Linked DNA regions of Homo sapiens. The protein of the gene in region 2 purifies or fractionates together with the protein of the main gene of each other region. This does not show direct contact. Each region holds a gene or a part of one and is shown on either strand. Other genes may lie near its edges.

The links.
Region 1: the proteins of HLF (region 2) and TLK1 purify together in Homo sapiens (affinity purification with mass spectrometry; 2 studies listed by BioGRID and IntAct, with this or other methods). This does not show direct contact.

Annotation. Positions count from the first base shown.
Region 1 is NC_000002.12:170,989,060-170,999,019, reverse strand, and holds the end of TLK1 (serine/threonine-protein kinase tousled-like 1), read left to right. Parts: intron 1-1,196; coding exon 1,197-1,308; intron 1,309-2,259; coding exon 2,260-2,367; intron 2,368-5,063; coding exon 5,064-5,240; 3' UTR 5,241-8,197; downstream 8,198-9,960. UniProt on the Homo sapiens protein: Rapidly and transiently inhibited by phosphorylation following the generation of DNA double-stranded breaks during S-phase. This is cell cycle checkpoint and ATM-pathway dependent and appears to regulate processes involved in chromatin assembly.
Region 2 is NC_000017.11:55,314,745-55,325,133, reverse strand, and holds part of HLF (hepatic leukemia factor), read right to left. Parts: intron 9,908-10,389; coding exon 9,687-9,907; intron 4,474-9,686; coding exon of another isoform or gene 4,471-4,473; coding exon 4,255-4,470; 3' UTR 1-4,254.

The DNA.
Region 1 (9,960 bases), on a different chromosome or scaffold from region 2:
CCAAGGTGGGAGGATCACGTAAGGCCAGTAGTTCGAGACCAGCTTGGTCAACAGCACAAGACTATCACTACAAAGAAGAAAGTATTAGCTGGGTGTGCTGGTGCACGTCTGTAGTCCCATCTATTTGGGAGGCTAAGGTGCGAGGGTCACATGAGCCCAGGAGTGTGAGGCTGCAGTGAGCTATGATCGTACCACTGTACTCCAGCCTGGGTGACAGAGTTGGACCCTGTATCAAAAAAAATTATGAACTTATAAATAGGACTTACATATTTTTAAAATAGTAATTTTGAATACCCATTGTGTTTCAGACACTGCTAGTGCTTGAAACTGCACAGTGAATAAGAGTTCCTTGAGCTGCTCACGGTCTGGTGTGATTGTAGTTTAATGCCATAATAGAGGCATTGCACCATTCTGCAGTAACACAGAGAAAAGCAGAGCCACCTGGGGAGAAGCAAAAGATGGCTTATGGGGGTTGGGTGGGTCTTGAAGAAGAAAAGATGCTAAGTAATTGGAGTGATTAGGGAAGGCAGTAGTGATTGTCATATTCAAGAGCTCAGAGGATAAAGGAGAGCCGAGTGGAGATGCAAGTGAATTGGTTTTGACTAGCCAATTTGGCGGGTTAGGGTGGGGGAAGATAGTGTGTGCAGATTTTGAAAATGTATGTTGTTGCCAGATTAGCATGAGTCTTGTGTTACAAACAAGAGATACAAGGTCTTGTTGGCAGTAAGTGCTGTCGAAGTTGTTTGAACAAAAGAACCATGTGATCAGGTGTATATTTTAGGGAGAGAAGTGCCTACAGTTTGAACAGTGGTTAAGGAGGATGGGAGAGGGTTTCTTCTACTATTATTAGATACTGCAAATAAGACCATTGTAATCTCTTTAAGTTTTTGTTTCGGTAGGTAGGTAGGTGGTAGGTAGGTAGGTAGGTAGATAGATAGATAGATAGATAGATAGATAGATAGATAGATAGATAAAGATAGATAGAGATGAACTTTATCACAATGTTGTATGTGTTGGCTCTAGAGTTAAATGATAAAAGAATGTAAATGCTCCAGAAGTTCAGTTGATGATTTTCACTGATGGGAGTCCTAGAGTTTATATATGAATAAAATTCGTGTTCTAAGATTTTACACTTAGAAGATTTTAAGTTACAGATTGTCAGTAGTAACCTTTTTTCTCTCCCACAAAACTTACAGGTATTTACCTCCTGAGTGTTTTGTAGTTGGAAAAGAGCCACCAAAGATTTCCAACAAGGTTGATGTATGGTCGGTTGGAGTCATCTTCTTTCAGTGTCTTTATGGTAGAAAGGTAAATTGAATTCTACCAGCCTTCAGCTCTACAGAGATAAATTAAGTTGAATTTTTCCTTCTTAAAAGCAAAATTTCACTAACTTAAAGTCAATTTAGATCCTTCTAAAGAAAGCCAGGCTTCTCCTCTATTTCTTCCTAAAATTTCCATGGATCAGAATTATTTTAATGTCACACCAGTTTACTTGACCTACTTTTTGCTTTCTTTCCTTTTTTTAAGAAAAGAAGTAACTATCTGTTAACATGCTAATATTTGTCTGCTATTGGGAATACTGGAGTCAATACTTTTCATTATCCACCATTCACTTGACCTCCTCTTACACCCCCCACCCCACCCACACACACAGTTTGGCCTGGGTGGGCAGTTTCCCCGTTGCTCATCAGGGAAATACCATCAAACTTAGTCTTATTTCCCAACTTCTTTTTATATTGAAGTTGGAAGTGCAGGTTACCATAAATATTAACTAGCCCACATCCCACCCCATCCCTTCATCAATAGGGGAAGAGAGGTTAAGGGATTTGTGTGGGATCTCCTCACTCCAAATCCAGAGCTCCTTCATTTAAATTCGCCTGTGATGCACACAGTATTTTATTCTTTGGAAATTGTCATAGACATTTTCATTACTACTTCATCTCTTCTCTAACTGAACTTCATTGTTTATTCAGAATAAAGTTTTAAATTTATGTTTTTATCTTATATTGCAACAGCATTATTTTCTTCTTCTTACAGTGTTTAATCTATGTTGAAGATCTGTTAGGTAGGCTTTCTTGGCCTGCTATCAATTATAGCTTGTTTGTATGAGAATTCATCTCAGGTTTCAAATAACTGAGGAAGATTTTAGAACACAAGATATTTGGATTTTCGGTTTTGGGAATTCGCTTAAACAGAAATGATATCTGTGTTTAAATATTTTGTGAGAAAAGTATCTCAACATTTAATTTTTTTTTTAAGCCATTTGGTCACAATCAATCTCAACAAGACATTCTTCAAGAAAATACAATATTAAAAGCCACAGAAGTCCAGTTCCCTGTAAAACCGGTTGTAAGCAGTGAAGCCAAGGTATTAAATTTTTGTAAATGAGTTTTGTGAAGTAACTTTTCTTTCATCAGTTGTGCTGACAACAAGGTAAGTACTTTCCAGTAAGTAAAGTCACAAGACTCGCTGCTGCAGGGGATCTGTCCAGCAGGGGCTGGTGATTTACTTTCAGAGAAGGAGTTGCATCAGCCTCTGGTTGCTATAGTTTTTATCTTTTAAGCTATGGTCTCTGATTGTTTATGTTCATCAGCTGCTACTTTGAAAATTAGGGAAAAATCACAAGATCTGGGCTCATCATTACCTTTTATGTATTATTTTATCTGCTTATGTTAATACTGAGATATATAAGTATATAAGAAATATTAAAAGTAATAATAAGGCTGGGCGTGGTGGCTCACACCTGTAATCCCAGCACTTTGGGAGGCCAAGGCGGGCAGATCATCTGAGGTCAGGAGTTTGAGACCAGCCTGACCAACATGGTGAAACCCGGTCTCTACTAAAAATACAAAAATTAGCCAGGCGTGGTGGCACACATCTAGAGTCTCAGTTGCTTGGGAGTCTGAGGTGGGAGGATCACCTGAGCTCAGGGAGGTCAAGGCTGCAGTGAGCCATGACGATACCGCTGCACTCAAACCTGGGGGACAGAGTGACACCCTGTCTCAAAAAAACCAAATAGGCCATGCGCGGTGGCTCACACCTGTAATCCAGCAATTTGGGAGGCCCAGGCAGGCAGATTGCCTGAGCCCAGGAGTTCGAGACCAGCCTGGGCAACATGGTGAAACCCCATCTCTACTAAAAATACAAAAATTAGCCCGGTGTAGGGGCCCGTGCCTTTAGTTTCAGCTTCTCAGGATGCTGAGCTGGGAGGATCGCTTGAGACCAAGAGGTAGAGGTTGCAGTGAGGTGAGATCGCACCACTGCACTCCTGCATGGGCGACATAGCAAGACCCATTCTCAAAAAAACAAAAGAGATAAATATTCTTATTTGAAAGCAAAATGAATTATTTTTGTAAGATAAATATGACTCCTTTAAAAATATTTTAACTGTGCTGACATCTAAATCTTGTCTTATTTTCTGTCTGTAGCCTCATTGAGAACAGAAATTAAATGAATTTAGTTGATTCATGATCTGTTTGTTTAATACTGACTGAAAAGACCAGGAGGAGTGGAGTTGCCAAAGGCAAAGTCTCATTTAGCCATTCCTGGTTCTCTCCTTAGGCTCTTAATAGGCACCACAGTCACCTTTTAGAGATCTGGAATCCAGGAAGGGTTAAGGGGTTGTTGGGGGGATATAATATTAATATGATACAATTATATGATATAAATTTTAATATTTTAATGTAATATATAATATCTCTATATTCTGTATCCCTACAGAAGATACCTTTGCCAAGTACTTTCCCTGACTTGGTGTGGGCATCTTTAAGTACATTATTTGTTGCAGACTTAACCTTAACCTTGCTATTGATAGCCTTTCCACTCCTCAAACTCTAACATATCAGTCTTGATGTTTTTTTCCCTCTTAATCATTTTTCAAAGTGATCTCTGAAACTTTGTTAAAGATAAAAAAGATAAGTCCTCTAAGGGATCAGATTGACTTCCAATAAACAGTAAGCTATGGTAAAATGAGAATAGCTAGGTATATTTTTAGAGAAAAATATACTTCTAATGAATTTCAAAGCAAAGAAAGTGCAAAATAGTTACCTTTTAATGTGATTATACTTCTGTTTAATGGTATGTATTAATTTCTAGTGTCAGCATTAAGAAAGGGAAACAATTACCAGTTACCTCCTGAGAATATTTTATCTGTTCCCTCCCCCCCCAAAAAAGGATGAACCTCAAAATTTAATATTGGGTGAAAGAGGCCTGGCAAAGGAGAACATAATTTATAATTCTATTTATATAAAATTCAAACAATCAAAACTCAACTATGGTTTTAGAAGTCAAGATAAAGGTTAACCCAGGTTCGACTGGGGACAGAGCCAGTGCCTGGAACTGGGCATGAGGGGGATTCAGAGGTTCTTTTTCTTGATCTGGTTGCCAGTTACATAGATGTATTTACTTTGTGCTATGCACTTAACGATTTGTGTGCATTTCTAAAAATGTGTTACACTTCAGGAAAGGTTTTTTTTTTTTTTGTAAGAGGCTATTCTCAAAGAAAAACTGAGTAAAATTGGTTTGAGAAAAAAAAAATAGTGATTATATTCTGTTTATTTAGCTTTTCCAGGAGTGTAATGATGCATAGGGTTAACCTGGGAAACAATGTCCCTAATGAAAGTGTCCCTTCAGTGATCTCTTCATCTAAAGAAAGTCTTTATGTCAGTAGGAAAAAAAAATAATGGTTGAAAATGGCATCTTACCCTTTGCTAAACTGAAGTGATAACAAAATGGGATGAGGGTGGGAGGACTGTTTAGCAGAAGAAAAATGCTAGAAAAAAGTCTTCAGAATTTCGTAAGCAGAAACAACTTTCCAGTATAAGTTCAAATGGTTGCAGTAGTAATTTAGACTGTAAAGTGAACCACTGCAGGGGCTTCAAGCAGTGAGTTGCATTTGGAGTGAGAATTTTCTAGCTACAGAATTTTTTTTTTAAGGTTTGAACTTCCAATAAAATGAGATCTACTTATGTCTTAAATGTGTCCATCCTTCTGCTGATTCAGTTGATTGATATTTAGAAGGGAAAAAGATCATTAATTGCTAACATTTCCTTTCTCTTTTTGAGGCATTTATAAGACGCTGTTTGGCATATCGAAAAGAAGATCGATTTGATGTGCACCAGCTGGCAAATGACCCATACCTTCTCCCACACATGAGAAGATCAAATTCTTCAGGAAACCTACACATGGCTGGGCTGACAGCATCCCCTACACCCCCTTCTTCAAGCATAATTACTTACTGACTTTCCTCCAAGATTGGCATGATATCTTTGAATTTGCTTCCAGATGCACACTTAAGTTTGAGAGCATTTGAGTGTTTGTTTTCTTTTTCTTTTTTTTTTTTTTTTTTTTTTACACAAGACGTGGTTAAGAACTGTTTGTGAACTGAAGTTCCTCATAGTGTCATTTGTATGAGAGAGGATCATGGACAATGAATAAATGCACACTTCTGACTATAATTTTGAGCAGTGAAGGAAGGATGACTGCCTGTTACACAGAAACAGGAATACCATGTTAAGATAGAGGAAAAAAATTTTGTTTATTTGGGGGAACACTGTAAATAACGTTTATAATACTTAAATACATTTGGTTGTTACTAGAGAGTTCTAATATGAAGGGTAGTTTTTCATTATTTAAAAACACATGGAAAAATATGAGACATATTTCTAACATACGAACTATAGTGCCTGGATACATTCTTCAGCATTTGGCAGTTAATCTGCTGAAACCAAAGTAAGAACTGAATGACAGTGACAGTTGTGTTTTATAGTAATAGAATGTGAGAGTTAGAATCTTTGGACAAAGTTAGGCTTTGTCATTTGCCTATTCAGACTTTTACCAAGTTGTACCTCGAGATCACATGTCCGTTTTCTTTCACTGGTTATATTAAAGGGAGAGCTATTATTTCTAAATACTTTACACCTTTGACAAAATGAGCTGCTTGTGTTGAAATCAGTTGAATTCACTAAATTATAATATTGCCAGTGTTTTCAACACGTTAGAATTGATAACAGGTATTTTTCTTTTGTTACCAGGCCTTGTTCATCAAAACAGGTGACAGTGAGTAACCAAATGCAGACCAGTTCTATGCAGGATAATGATAAATTCCCTTCTAGCTCTATTGTAAATTGTTGTACAGATGTCATATTTCAATTACTAAGTTTCAGCAGCTTATTCTTGTACAAATGTTTAAAATATGGCTTTTCTAATTGGATATTGTATTTTTTTTAAGTCTTCTTGAAGGCACTCTAATTGCTGCTAAATGATGTTGCTTCTTTGCTAAAAAATTAAATGACCTAGAAGGTGCAAGTTGACTGTACATCATAGATATTAAAAAGCAGACAGTCATTAACAATCAAGATGTAAAAGTGATCCATGTTGGACATAATTGAGTTTTTAAATCAGTTTATTGGGTTCTAGGGCTGTAGAACACATAGATACTAGATTTTTAATTTGTTCATGGTTATTCTACATTTCTAGAAAGTTCTTATCAGCAAGATGGTCCCATAAGCAAATTTCTTGTGGTTTGTACAGATTTGTTAAAATGTGAACGTTTTCTAACTGCCTCGTAGGGTAGAAACCAATATTTTTCAGGATGCTGTATTTCACTCCTGTAAGGACTTTTTCTTTATTGTCACATTCATAATGCTGATACTTACATGTAAGTTGTTCATGTTGCAGAAAAAGGTTATACGTACCACGGATTCTCTTTAATATTGTACAGTTAAACTGTATTTCTGATGTTGCAAGCCATTTTGTTTTTTCATTGTACATAGACACATTGTCTCTTTAAAATGCTGCTGAAATTGTAGAGAGTATAGCCAAAACAGTAATAAACAATGACAGTTAAAATGTAAAGACTATGAAAATTACATTGGAAGGGAGCTTTCAAGATGGTAGGATATTGACTAACTGAGCTCCTTCACTTAAAAATCAGCTGAATAAATTCCTTAAGTATACTTCAAGACAAGTGTAAATTGTTTCAAGCTGTTAAAGTTAAACCTAATAACCATTATCAAGGCAACTCCTGGGTAAGTAACACTTAGAACCATCAAGAGTGGTTTAAGGGGCTGGCTATACCCATTCCTCTGTAGAGCACAGAGAAATCCTATTAAAAAAAAAATACTACATGGTAATGAAATCTTAGCATTGATTGAGTGCTTTACGTGCTGCCTGCAAGTTTTCAGTTTTGTTGTTAGAGTTTTCGTCTTTATGAATGATAAAGTCCTATGTTCATAAAGTAACATTTAAATTCCTGAACTAAAAGGAAATGCCTGTTGTGCTTAAAATTTTGGGGAGATACGAAGTGAATGTGTAAATCTAACTTTGAGGTTCAGTAAGTTAAGTAGTATAGACCTAGAGATCACTGCTTTACCATTTTACTTTCAAATGAATGAGAGCGACTGCTAGTGGCAGAACGCAGAAAAGGGGAAAAACAAGCCATGAAATGAAGTTGCTTTCCTGACCTGGGTTTAGGTCATCATTTTAAAATCAAAGATGTGTAGGAGATGAATCAACTTATAGACCCATATTTTCCTTCTAAAAGTTTCCCAAAGAAATGTTATAGATTTTGAATAACATGCCAGTGACCCAGCAGGTCCAAGATGGCTAACCAAGATGGCTAATTTAGCCACATTGAATAACTTACTTTTACCCTCACATGGAAAGTTGGTATCTATTGCTAAATGATTTCAAGGTCACTCTGACAGTCTTTGACACTGTTTTTTTTAGGGTTTTATTGTTTTCTGGTCTCCTGGTGTCTGTCCTCAGAATTAAAGCATGTCCTGCATCCCTAAGATGATAGCCAAGGCCTCTCTTTTATTAAGAGTCAGCACTGATGTAGGGTAAAATCAACAGTTTTTGCATATGATTTTAAAATCTTTCTTTGATTTGAATTTGCTTTAGTGTGTGCATGTTGAGAGGAAGTAAGTGTAGAAACCACCCTAATTTGTAAGTTGGGAGTTGGAGATACTTGGTGGTTTTTCAAAAATAAAGACTCAATCTTTTTTTTTTTTTTAAACACTCACTACCATCTCCTTCTAAAACAACTCTGTCAGTTTAAATGGCATATAAAATGTGAACAAACACCTCATTACATGAAGTCAAAATGGTGAAGAGCTTCAGTGAAACATTTAAAGAGTATATTGTGTGTTGTTTTGCTGTTCATCATTACTTATTAAATGCAGTAATGTTGATTGCCCTCATGCTATTAGCTGTGTTTTAGTTGTATAGTACAGTTCACCTAGATTAATTTACTCTTAAAATTTAATTACATTGCTGTTTGATTTTTGTGTGAATGTTATAACCTTACTTACACATTTAAAAGCCCATTGACAGGTCTTTCTTTAATTCTGCCTTAAGTTTTGACCTGTTAACTGATGATTTTTCATCTACATATACTAAATTTCAATGTTCTGAAGATTTAATCTAATTCAAAAAGTGCTTTTAGGCTGGCAGTGATGGCTCATACCTGTAATCCCAGCTCTTTGGGAGGCCAAGGCAGGTAAATCATTTGAGGTCAGGAGTTGGAGACCACCAGCCTGACCAACATGGTGAAACCCCATCTCTACTAAAAGTACAAAAAAATTAGCTGGGCATGGTGGTGCATACCTGTAATCTCAGCTACTCAGGAGGCTGAGGCAGGATAGTCACTTGAACCCCAGAGGCGCAGGTTGCAGTGAGCTGAGATCATACCTCTGCACTCCAGCCTGGGCGACAGGGTGAGACTCCATCTCAAAAATAAATAAATAAGTGCTTTTAGCAGCTAGTTTTAGAATTAAATTGGAATTCTAGTTCCTGTGTTTCAGTTCATTCTTCGGCAGTTTTAGAATTTATATAACTTGTTTTTCAATTTAAATTAGATGTATTTCCTACAACATAAACATCTCCATTTACCTTCCCCTACTTTCCCTTCATTTCTCTTTTTTGAGGATTCCTCCCCCACCCCGCCCCCTCTGGGAATTCTATAATTTTTGAAAAGGAAAGATTTGAGTAAATGTGTTTAAATCAACTTTTAAAGTTATTTGCAGAGAGCCAGAGAATGGGGTAGAAGAGTTACTTATAGTTAGGACAAAAATGCATGGCTTTCACCTGGAAATCTTCATTTGTCTAAAGTAATAGAGATGTGGATTATCTACACACATATGACTGGTTTTGTTTTTGTTTGAGACGGGGTTTCACTCTGTCACCCAGGCTGGAGTGCAGTGGTGTGATCTCAGCTCACTGCAACCTCTGCCTCCCGGGCTCAAGCTGGGACTACAGGCGTATGCCACCACGCCCAGCTACTTTTGTACTTTTTGTAGAGACGGGGTTTCACCATGTTGCACAGGCTGATCTCGAACTCCTGGGCTCAGGCGATCTACCTGCCTGGGCCTCGTAAAGTGCTGGGATTACAGGTGTGAGCCACAGTGCCTGGCCCATATGACTGTTTTAAGAAGGGCAATAAAATAGGTTAAGATATCAATTTTTTTGAACCAGAGTTTTTGGATTAAAATGTTGACTAACATTTACTACCTGTGTTTCTGGTTCCTCATCTGAAAATTAGGGTACAACTACCCATCATGCAGAGTGGCTGCAAGGAATGAATAAGTGAATTCACATATGTAACGCACTCAACCTTTACTTATATGCCCAGCTCATAAGTAGGTACTGTATATAATAAGCTGCTATTGTCATCATCCCTTTTTAAAACTCAAAAGATTATTCTATTAGCCCTATTTATAAAATTCAGTCTGCTTTGCTTCCTGTGGTAATTTTAATTATTTTAAGAAACACTTTCACAGTGCTTGACTCAGGTTTCAAACAAGTGATGATTAGATTGTCTGGAAATGGAAGGTGAGGAAATGTAGCAATTTGAAACAAAAAGTAGTAGCTGTGTGTGTGAACTAATTGCCAAAAGGATCATGCCCTATTGATGCTGTTTCATCACAGATATCTGTCATATTTTCCACAGTTTCCTTGCTA
Region 2 (10,389 bases):
GGTCTCTTTGCTACCGAGGTGGGAACAGAATACCATTGCTAGCCAACTGTTAATAAAAATACATGAAAGAAAGGAAAAAATTCAAAGTTTATTCAACATTAAGAATAACAGACAGATAAAGGTTTGGACTTAACAGCATAAATACCACCAATATCATGGTGTACAATTAAACTAACCTCATGTCAACTTGTACCTGTTTAACAGATGCGATCTTTGTGGTGTTGCCAAAAGGATAATGGATTATTGTTATGTTTGGTAAGGTGCTCAAAATTAAAGACTTTATGTCGACTTATTCACACACATACACACACACACACATGCACGCACACACACACACACACACTCTTACACTTAGCCTCCTGCAAAATGTATTGACTTTAGTTGCTATATCCGATTCGGATAAGGCTTTGCTCATTTTTTAAATGACATTATTAATTGCAGAAAAAACGTGGAGGAGACCTTGGCCTTGCCAGTGGGGGTACCTAGGAGCAGAAGGTGATCGCCACCTGGAGGGCAGATCACTTAGTCTCAGACACCTGCAGGGTGCTGAGACCCCAGTGCTAAATCCAGATCTCCAATTGCCATCACACATAGGCAAGCAGGCCTGGTCCCATGCCTTGGGATCGCTCTAATTGACTGTGATAAAGATTGAGTTTTCCTTAAAGGAAGAATAGGGTAAAATGAGATAAACTACTAGAAAAACCAAAGAATAGCTTTGCATTTCACAGAATGTCTATTGTTTTACACTGGGGGCAGTGGGGAGGGTGCCACTGATAATTCTTGCTTCTTCCGAAAACAGACCCTAGACATCTGATTGTACATTTGGAATTACTGTGAGTTCCCCACCAAACCAGTGGGTTAGAAGGAACCTCTGGGTGGTCTAGTACAGGTTTCCATTCCACCCACCCCACTGTGGAATCCCATCTGTACTCTCCTCAAAGGGTCCTTCTGCTTTGAGGGATGGGTCAGTGGAGGCCTGTTGTATTTGAAGACAAAAGGCCTATCACAGTCTTGCCTAATGTGGTATTTGAATGGTTCAAAGTGGCCACTTCCTGAAGAGAAAGAAGTAATGATCTACAGCCCTCCCCTCAACAAACTACCTCCTTAAGGCAGCACCAGCAGAAAGATAGGCTGGTCAATTTTTGCCTTTCTTTGCCAAGTCTAGTTAAAAGAAACAACAATGTGACCTCATCAGGAGGTCCTAAGCTGTTCCTTCCAAATCATGTCTAGATGATGTCAGTATGATATGATTTGGATTCATTGTTAATGGCCAAATAATTAATCTCTGAAAGATGCTTAGGATGAAAAGGTGAAAAATGACAAAGGGACTCTCATAATAGCTGCAGCGTGCAGACATGCGTCTGACTCCGGTTGACCCAAATCACTCAGAGTCAAGCCATGGCCTCCCGCTCCATGAAGCAGATCTGCCTTGTTTGCTAGTTAACTGCCCTGGATGGAGAGGCAGCCAGTCCAGAGGGAGTGTTCGTGTGTGTGTATCGTGACAATGACCTACATATAAGGCACCTGTACAGACTCCAAAGTGTTTAAATTTGTAAGACGAGGTAGGTTTCTGAAACCTCTCCTGGCACACAAGAGAATACATTTTATTAGAATCTTTTTATTTTTTTCTGCAGAAAACATTTGAGATGCTCATTTGATATAAACATCTAATTCCAAGAGAGACCAGTGCTCAAATATAGTTTTTTCAGCTACCATTTGATACGGCCATAAATTTGGATGGTCCATGTTACAATCCTTCCACAATTCTCCACTTAAAGACATCATTTTTCTATGTTTTTAATGACTATTGCCATCTAACAATTCTACAATTCGCCTCTTTGCCTGTAAAAAGGCCAACTCTACGTCCACCTGTGTCTCATATTGCTATCTTTTATTTATCTCTGCTTAAGATTGCAAAAGTTTTTGATTTTATTATTCACCTGAACAATGTATTGCAATTCCAATACACCCCCATCTCTTGCTGTTATCTACAGCTTGTGACAAAATGAACACCTTGTAGAAATATCCTACTGGTTGGGTTTCCCAAGTCTATGACACTATGAGAGAAGCATTGCTGATGGATTGACGAGGAGACCACCAGATCATTAAAGGATTAGATACTCTGAAGGCAGGAAACTAGAAAATCCCATTGATGAAAGGATATTTTAATCTAGCGTAAAATGTTTCTTTGTCGTAACAGCAGAATTTCTTGACATTTTACAACTTAATGAAACAAAAGAACAATCATCTTTAAAGTCAAACATCTATCAAATTATAAACCAAACACATAGCACCGATATCAACCTCATAAAACGTGCGGGCCCGCAGGGTAGAAAAGAACTGTCTGGGGCACTGGCAGCAACGTGCCATTCCAGGAACTCAGAATTTCGAAGTGAACATTTTTGTGGCAGATGCTTTTCCTAAAAAACACTGTATCATCCAATAAATATTTGACTAAAATCCATTTTGTGCTTTTGGGTGACGTTAACTGACTTCTTTCTGAGGCCTAATAAGAAACAAGAAAGCTCCTTGTGTATTTTAGAGCAGGATTCGTCATCACAAGCCTCGATACTGTCATAAAATTTTAATTTAAAGCAGAAAACATGCTGATGTGTCAGTGATAGGGCTTAAAATATTAAAGACTTCAAAAACCCCCAAGCACTTCTTCTCTGTACAACATTGGTGAATATATATCTTTGCTATATAATTTTAAAACATGGAATAGTTTTCCTCTCCTCTTTTCTATATATAATATATGTCTTCCAAAATACATTGTCAGTATTTATATCTGAAAAATACTGTACAAAAAAGAACTTCCTATAATTACTCTGTATAAACATTAAACGATTTAATAATCTCTCCTTTTGGTCTATAGTAAACATTTAAATTGATTGGATTAACCACAGTTTGTGACAACACCATCCCCTTCTGAGATACACCAGTGTCTTTTACATTCATTTTTCAGAAGTCCACTTTATAAGAGCACATACGTTCAAAAGCAAACAGAGAATAAGAAACATAAGCTTCAGAATCATTAATTTATGAGGCATTCAAAAATGACACCACTAGGAAAAAGGGCCTTAGAAAACATCAACTTATTAACTTAATCAACTGATTTTCTTTTTAAAAACAACAAAGTATAATTCACAAAAATATATATATTACCAAAAAGTGGGAAAACTGAATCTTAAGTAACTGTTTTGAATGTCAAGAGGGATATGGAAAAAGTTAACTAGAAAAGTGGGGGCGAGGCAGGGTGTGAGGGAAGGGGAACAACAAAACCGAACACATCAATGTCAAAGGCTAATCCAAGACGCAGTTTTTGGCTCATGTACTGATAAATTAACCCCTCATCCTTAGACCTCCCATTTCCCTCTGCTTCCTTGTCCTAGGGAATAGTCTGGCCATGCTCAAATGCATTACTTTACTTTTTGTTTTTTAAAAGACAGTGAAATTCTTAGGTAGGGAAAATATCCTACGTCCACTAGTAATACTCAGGCAGCATGCTCTAGCGTACAATAGGATTATTGCTTTAGGTACAGACAGTGCAAAAACACACTCTGTGTTCTATTAATAGTACTCTTACTTATCTGGGGTTGGTAGAATTAAAAGGAAACTTAGTAGATAGCAGTAAGTAAATATGGGATCTAATAAATCTAAACAGCACTTTAATTTGAAGACGATTATCACCAAAACTGAAAGTAAGAGGAAAGCAACTTATAAAGGACTAGAGCTGCGGAGTAGTGCTAAGTTATTGTGTGCACCTCATTAGCATGGTAACTTACGGACTAAACAGAAACAAGAGCTTGTACTCTTAAAAACTGAGATCCACTATTTTACCAGGGCCCTTTTTAGTGAATCCAAGCAGAGAGTCCTGGAAGAGTAGGTAAGCTCGAACATGAAGCAAAGCTGAGGAGGCAGGAGTGAAGGAGGGAGGGGATGGGAGACCCGCGAGAGGGCTCCTCAGTCTAGTAAAGACATGGCACCTTTCTTTGTTGGAACTAAAAGACGATGAGAGGGCTACCTTAAAATGGCAAGAGCAAAGGAACACGCACACGCACATACCGCTGACCACACACATGAGCACAAGCACATATACACGCACACACACACAGATGCACACCAAAATGGGAGTCAGTTGTGTTTATGCCTCTGGTAAAGTGCTGATGTCAGAAAGGTTGGTTTGCGTGTGGTGCTATCAGACAGGAAACAAACTGTCCATCTATTCCAAAGCCAGCCTGCAAAAATGCCATCCTACAGGGGCCCGTGCCTGGCCTCATACTTGGCAAGTATGTTCTTGCATTTGCCCAGCTCCTTCCTCAAGTCAGCCACCTCCTGGCGGAGGGCCGAGTTCTCCTTCTCCAGGAACGAGGCCCGGATGGCGATCTGGTTCTCTTTCAGCCTCCGGGCGTCGCGGGAGCGCTTGGCTGCCATGTTGTTCTTTCTGCGCCTTGCCCAGTACTTGTCATCCTGCTCATTAGTTACAGAAGGGAAAAAGAAACAAGATATTAGATTTCAGCAAAGCCCAGTGCCAGCCAGGGCACGGGCAGGCTCCAGGATTGTGCAGAGGTGCCAGCCCGGGTTTCTTAGCTTGTGTCTCCTTCCTTTACAGTTTCTGCATGTCTGAGAGTGTGGCCCATGAGCCACACTTCCTTCTTGGAGCAAGGACCCACCGATCTGTCCCAACAGGCTCCTACTCTTTGCCCAGCAGAGGCGTGCTCAGTGAAGCAGAGATCAGAGGCTGGATGAAAGCAGGTGGCTCACCTCACCCTTAAATTACATTTCAACTTTCTTTACTCTCCCTGCTCAACATTTTAAGAACCCTTTTCCTTCAAGGGCACTCATATGCTTTTTTGGGTATGAGTTGGTACAAAAATTTTAGAAGGCAATTTGGCAATATCTATCAACTATTTAAATGGATATACTATTCATCTAGCACTCCACTTCCAGGATTTTGTCCTGTAGCAATCTCCATACATGTGCATGTACACACAAGCATAAACTGTTCACTGCAGCATTATGTGCAGTAGAAAAAATGAGGAAAAACTATGCATAGGAGATTTAACAACCACGTTATGATACAGTCATACAAAGGGATACTTGGCAGCTGTTAAAAATAATGACCCACCTGCACCAGAAAGATGTTCATATGATATGCCACTATGTGGGTGGAAACAATGACAGTTTACACACAAATATGTATGGTCTCATCCCAGTTTGATTAAAAATCATATATTCATAGAAAGAGGCGCAAAAAGATTTATACTAATCTATAAAGGTGGAGCCTCTAGAAGGGGGATTGGCAGAGGCAAAGATGTAAGACTTTCTACCTTTTATATTATTCTGAACTATTACAATATCATATAATAGATACATACACTTTGGTAATTAAAAATAGAAATTAAAAAAAAAAATCTTCAACCTGCCGCTAATCAATGTACTCATATTGGTGGCCAGAATTTACATAATTTACTCTAATTTCTTGTTTAACCATTCTCTAGGCCTTAATTAGCCTGAGTAATATTTTACTGTGGTCAGTGTAAAAACAATCCCTCCTTCCCTGCCCTCCACCCCCACTGCTGCCTCCCTGACAGAAAGGAAAAACTTCTTAAGAAGACTAAGAAACAGGGATCTTCTTTTAGATCTTCCCAATTCACTGATGGTGGCACCTGGTGAATTTTGCAACTCCCCTTTTTCAACAATTTGCAACAGCAAATCCCTCAGTCCTAGCAATGCTACTACCTGCAGTTACATGCCACCCAGAATAAATGGGTCAGGCCAGTGCTTGCACCCCTCAGAATTCCAAGGGGCAGTTGGCATTGAAGGAGGTCACATGGGTTGGGGCCAAAGCTGCAAGGAAAGTCTAAGGTCAGCGGTCCACCCCCAAAACTGCCCATTACCCTCAACAGGCATTTGCCCTGCACAAATACAGAAAGTGTGGGATAGAAACTGTGTAGATACCTCCTATCTGCCATCCACAAACTAGTACTATCATCTTAAATAAAGCACCCCCAGCTTTTTATACATTTCATAACAATATGCAACAGGGTAAAAAAACGATTTTCAAAATAGATGTTACCAGAATTCTTCTGGGTAGGAGGGAGGAGGCTGCTCTTTGAAGAATACCTGGGTGAGCAAGCTAGGGCAGGTGTGCAATGGTTGTTGGCCGAATTTGTTGTCTGTGCTTCTGAAAGCGAGCAGGGGAGCTGGAGGCAGGGGAGAGGCTGGGAGGAGTCAGGCGAGTCAATGACGTCATGGTGGTGAGGGGGCCCAAAGTGGTGAAGCCTCCAGTTAACAACAGTGGTGAAGCCTCCAGTTCTGATGGAAGTTATTTGTGTTTTGATAGAAGCCTGGGTTCCAATCCCTTCACAGTATCAGTAAATCTATACCCAACAATGTGCCTGGGAGTGCGGTTTCCAAGAGCACTCAAAAGAGGACTTGATTTAGGATGTATCAGAGTCTGCACACGGGGGAACAGGAGCCCAGGAGGCGAAGGGGTACATAAGAACAAGCCCCTGGAACACTGTAGAAACTGCATGTATGTGATGGGGGAGGAATGGGGGGTCCCACCATAGGCCACAGGCTTGATGTGGTGTAAGACAATTCTGACCAGGTCTTAATGACCAGGGAGTCACCAGCTGACTTCAGGGTAACAACCAACTTCTCTCTAACTTATTAGAGCTCTTCTCACTTCTAAAGTGCTCTCATTTCCCAGCCTCACCTGTCCACACATGCAGATGAGCCAGCCAAGGTGTGGAATGCAAAACAAACCTTTCAGGTGGGAGGGAGGGGAGCTGGGAACCGGGTCCAGAAGAGGATACAGAAGGCAGGAATGACGAAAGGAGTGTCCTGGACTAGAAAAGCCTGCTCGCCTCCCTTTGTTATCGCAGAAGGGTTGCGGGCAGGGGGGAAGCGGGATTTTGAGCGGGGCTGATAAACTTGGCACTCCATCCTCTGCCCCCTTTCCCTCTCCCAGTTGCTGATGCCATCTGGCTACCCAGTTACCTCCATGCAACAAGGGACCCACTTAGCCCCGCCCCACCCAACAGATCAACACTCCCTGTTTCTCACCAGACTACAAGTTCCATGAAGGCAGGAACAGTATCAGTATTGGCTCACCTCGGTATTCCCAGCCCCTGATACAGGGTTAGAGGGTTGGCACACACTAGCATTTGAAAAAATTCATCAAGTGAATGAATGGACCATTAAAAGCATTTAAAAAATCAAGGTAATTAAATGGATTTTCAGCTAGGTACCCCAGCATGTCAACCTCAATTCTCCCTTCTTTCTCCAGCGCATGCATGCTAACCCTAATGATTGGCTCAAGAGAGGAAGTTCAGGCAGCTACAGGGAAGATCATTTTTAGTGGGGCCATTTCATTGAACTGGTTTACTTGTCCAATGCTGGGGGCCAGAAACACCTTCTCCTCCATCTACCCTTAGCTCAGACCTTTCTGCCAGAAGGAGAAACATGTTACAGCTCTGCTTCCTGCTTTATATTAGCTCATGGTCTTTAGTTTGAGACTTCGTCCACAACTAAAAAATATCCAAGGACACCTGGCAGGACAATGTTCCTGCCCATTCCCCACCTGCTATGTGGAAAGGTCAGGCCTGACCATGACAGCAGCAATATGTGTAATTCCAGCACAGACGGTTTTTGTCTGGCCTCTTTGTTGCCAAGGTTACCTGGGTTATTAACTAATCTTGCTCTTTGATAAATCTGGAGACTTTGTGAAAGTCTGGCTGGAAGTTCTGTCTATCACTCATAGCAGCATCCTTTCAAACTACCCTCCATTCAAGAGAAAATCCAGGTTGAACAGGATCCCTGGCTTTAGTTTAAGATACGAGGCTTTAAAATACACAAAAAAGGCCGGGCGCGGTGGCTTACACCTGTAATCCCAGCACTTTGGAAGACCGAGGTGGGCAGATCACAAGGTCAGGAGATCGAGACCATCCTGGCGAACACGGTGAAATCCCGTCTCTACTAAAAATACAAAAAATTAGCCGGGCGTGGTGGCGTGCGCCTGTAGTCTCAGTTACTCAGGAGGCTAAGGCATGAGGATGGCTTGAACCGGGGAGGCGGAGCTTGCAGTGAGCTGAGATCGTGCCACTGCACTCCAGCCTGGGCAACAGAGTGCGACTCCATCTCAAAAAAAAAAAAAAAAAAAACACCATAAAAAATTGGATCACTAAGAAGACAAGACTAGGAAAGGCATCTCATTGAAATAAGGTACCTAATTGCCCAAGACCTGAGCCCATGGTGCCCCTTTTTTACCCCATCTCAGTCTAACCATCAATGTCCTGACTAGTTTAGATTTTCTGGTGTTTTTACCATGTGATTTCCTTTTTTGATTCTCAGGGTGACAGCCATTGATTTGTCACCCATGGGCCCCCGTTATAGCCCTTGTCAGGGCCAACATGCTGCTGTGACCTTTTGGGAAGCAAGACAACCTGGGAGCCAGGCTAAGCCTTTCTCTAACAGGTAGTGATCCGCTGACTTCAGCTTTCCATTTTCTGCATTTCCTCAACTGCAAGTGGTAATTTTGGACAAATGAATCTCTAAGGTCCCCTTCAGCCCTGATGTTTTCCTATTCTGCATCAATTAAGGTAATCTCAGGAATGTGGATGACAGCAGTGATTTAAATTTGCCAGGTACTTCTGCTTCCAGCATTTTTTCTAGCTATGTAAAGCAGGAACAACTGGTCTAAGCCAGTTCAGACGTTGTCTCAAATTCCTATTTCCCAGCCTAGGAGTGTCTCTACATAGGAACAATAGTTAGGTTTGAGAGATGGGGGGCAGACAGTAGAAAAGGGCTAATTATGCCTGGTTCCAAGGCCTTGACTACATAATAATCATATCTCTAGTACCCACATGATTGGAAAGAAGCATGAAAGTTCTAAGCAATGGTTAATAAGAAATGGTTCTATTTTGGCATTAGCAGACATGGCATAATTTTGGAAAGAATTTTCATCCTAAGATGTCATTATTGTGTCTGGTTAATTTTGTTTTAAGCTGTATTTGACTTCCAAGGTAAATCTATTTCCCTTTATAAATAAGGTGTCCCTTCAACACTGCAGAGAAAACCTACTTAGAATTAATCTAGCGGTGAGATATTCAAGTGATCGTTACTTAAGATACATATAAATGGTGTCAGGGAACTACCAGTTTCCTTCACAAAATCCCACCCTGGTCATCCAAGGTTGGCAATATGGAGGAAGGTCCTATCTCTGGCTGTTATTCCTCGCAGCCTACAGGGAAATGGCAGCAGCAAATTATCAAAAATTTTCTAAAAGGAAGGTAACCCTTCGAGGGCAATGAGGTTCAGATGCCCTTCTCAAATGATTTTCTTTCTCTTCTCAACCTTGAAAGATGTGGGGTTTAATTTTATTAGACTTTTGTGGGTTTCCATGCAGATAGGAGCAGGTTTGTTTCCTTCATGGGTTTAAAATCACTCCAACATTTTACTGCTTCTCCTTGTTTCTGTTCAGCATCAAGACATAAAAGTGCATTTCAAAAAATACCCAGAGAGGAAACAACTGGCCTAGAAGTCACATGCCAAGAAACAGGATCAGAAATCAGAAATCCTTCATGCACTAGCTTCTGGGATCATCCTGGGGTCACCCTTTTAATCTGTCTGTGGATCCCACTCTCCATTTGCCCAAAGACTGATTACCAGTTCCAATTTACCTTCAGGTCATCAGGGATGAAGACTTTGCGAGCTTTCTTGATCATGGGCTGTGGCTTCAGTTCTTCCTCAGAGAACTTGCGTTTGCGAGGGTCAAACATTTCCTGGCCAGGGATGCTGGAAAGGGCAAGATCTGCTGGGTCTGGCTCATAACCCACTGGGACCTGGATGGTGTCAGGATCAATGGGACTTGGTGTATTGCGGTTTGCTGGCAACAGCTGACCTGGAACAACACAGGAGTTTTAATTCATGAACACCCTAGAGAGACCCAGTAGGCAGCTACTTAATGGTGCTCTGAGATGAGTGGTAAGAGTCTTCAGCTCACTTATATATGATGCTAACATGATTTATCTTACTCATCCGCACTGCATTTCTGAGAACACAGCAGGTTGAGTATGACTTGACTCACGTCACATCAGGCAAAACAGAAACCCACATACACATGTTCAAAAACTAGAGAAGGAGAAGCCCAATTTAAAAATACACATTCATTCTTTCCTATCACACAGCGATGTGCCAGGCACTCTGCAAGATGCAATGAACAGAACTACGTAATTTTCACCTTGAGGGTGGTTTCCAGGTGAGTCAGGGAGACAGACCAATAACTAGCCAGTTAGGGGAGAGTACAGATGTTGGGATGGAAGTAATTCTCATGTGCTTCCACAGTGTGAGGAAATGGTACGTAACACAAAGGAGGTTAGGGAG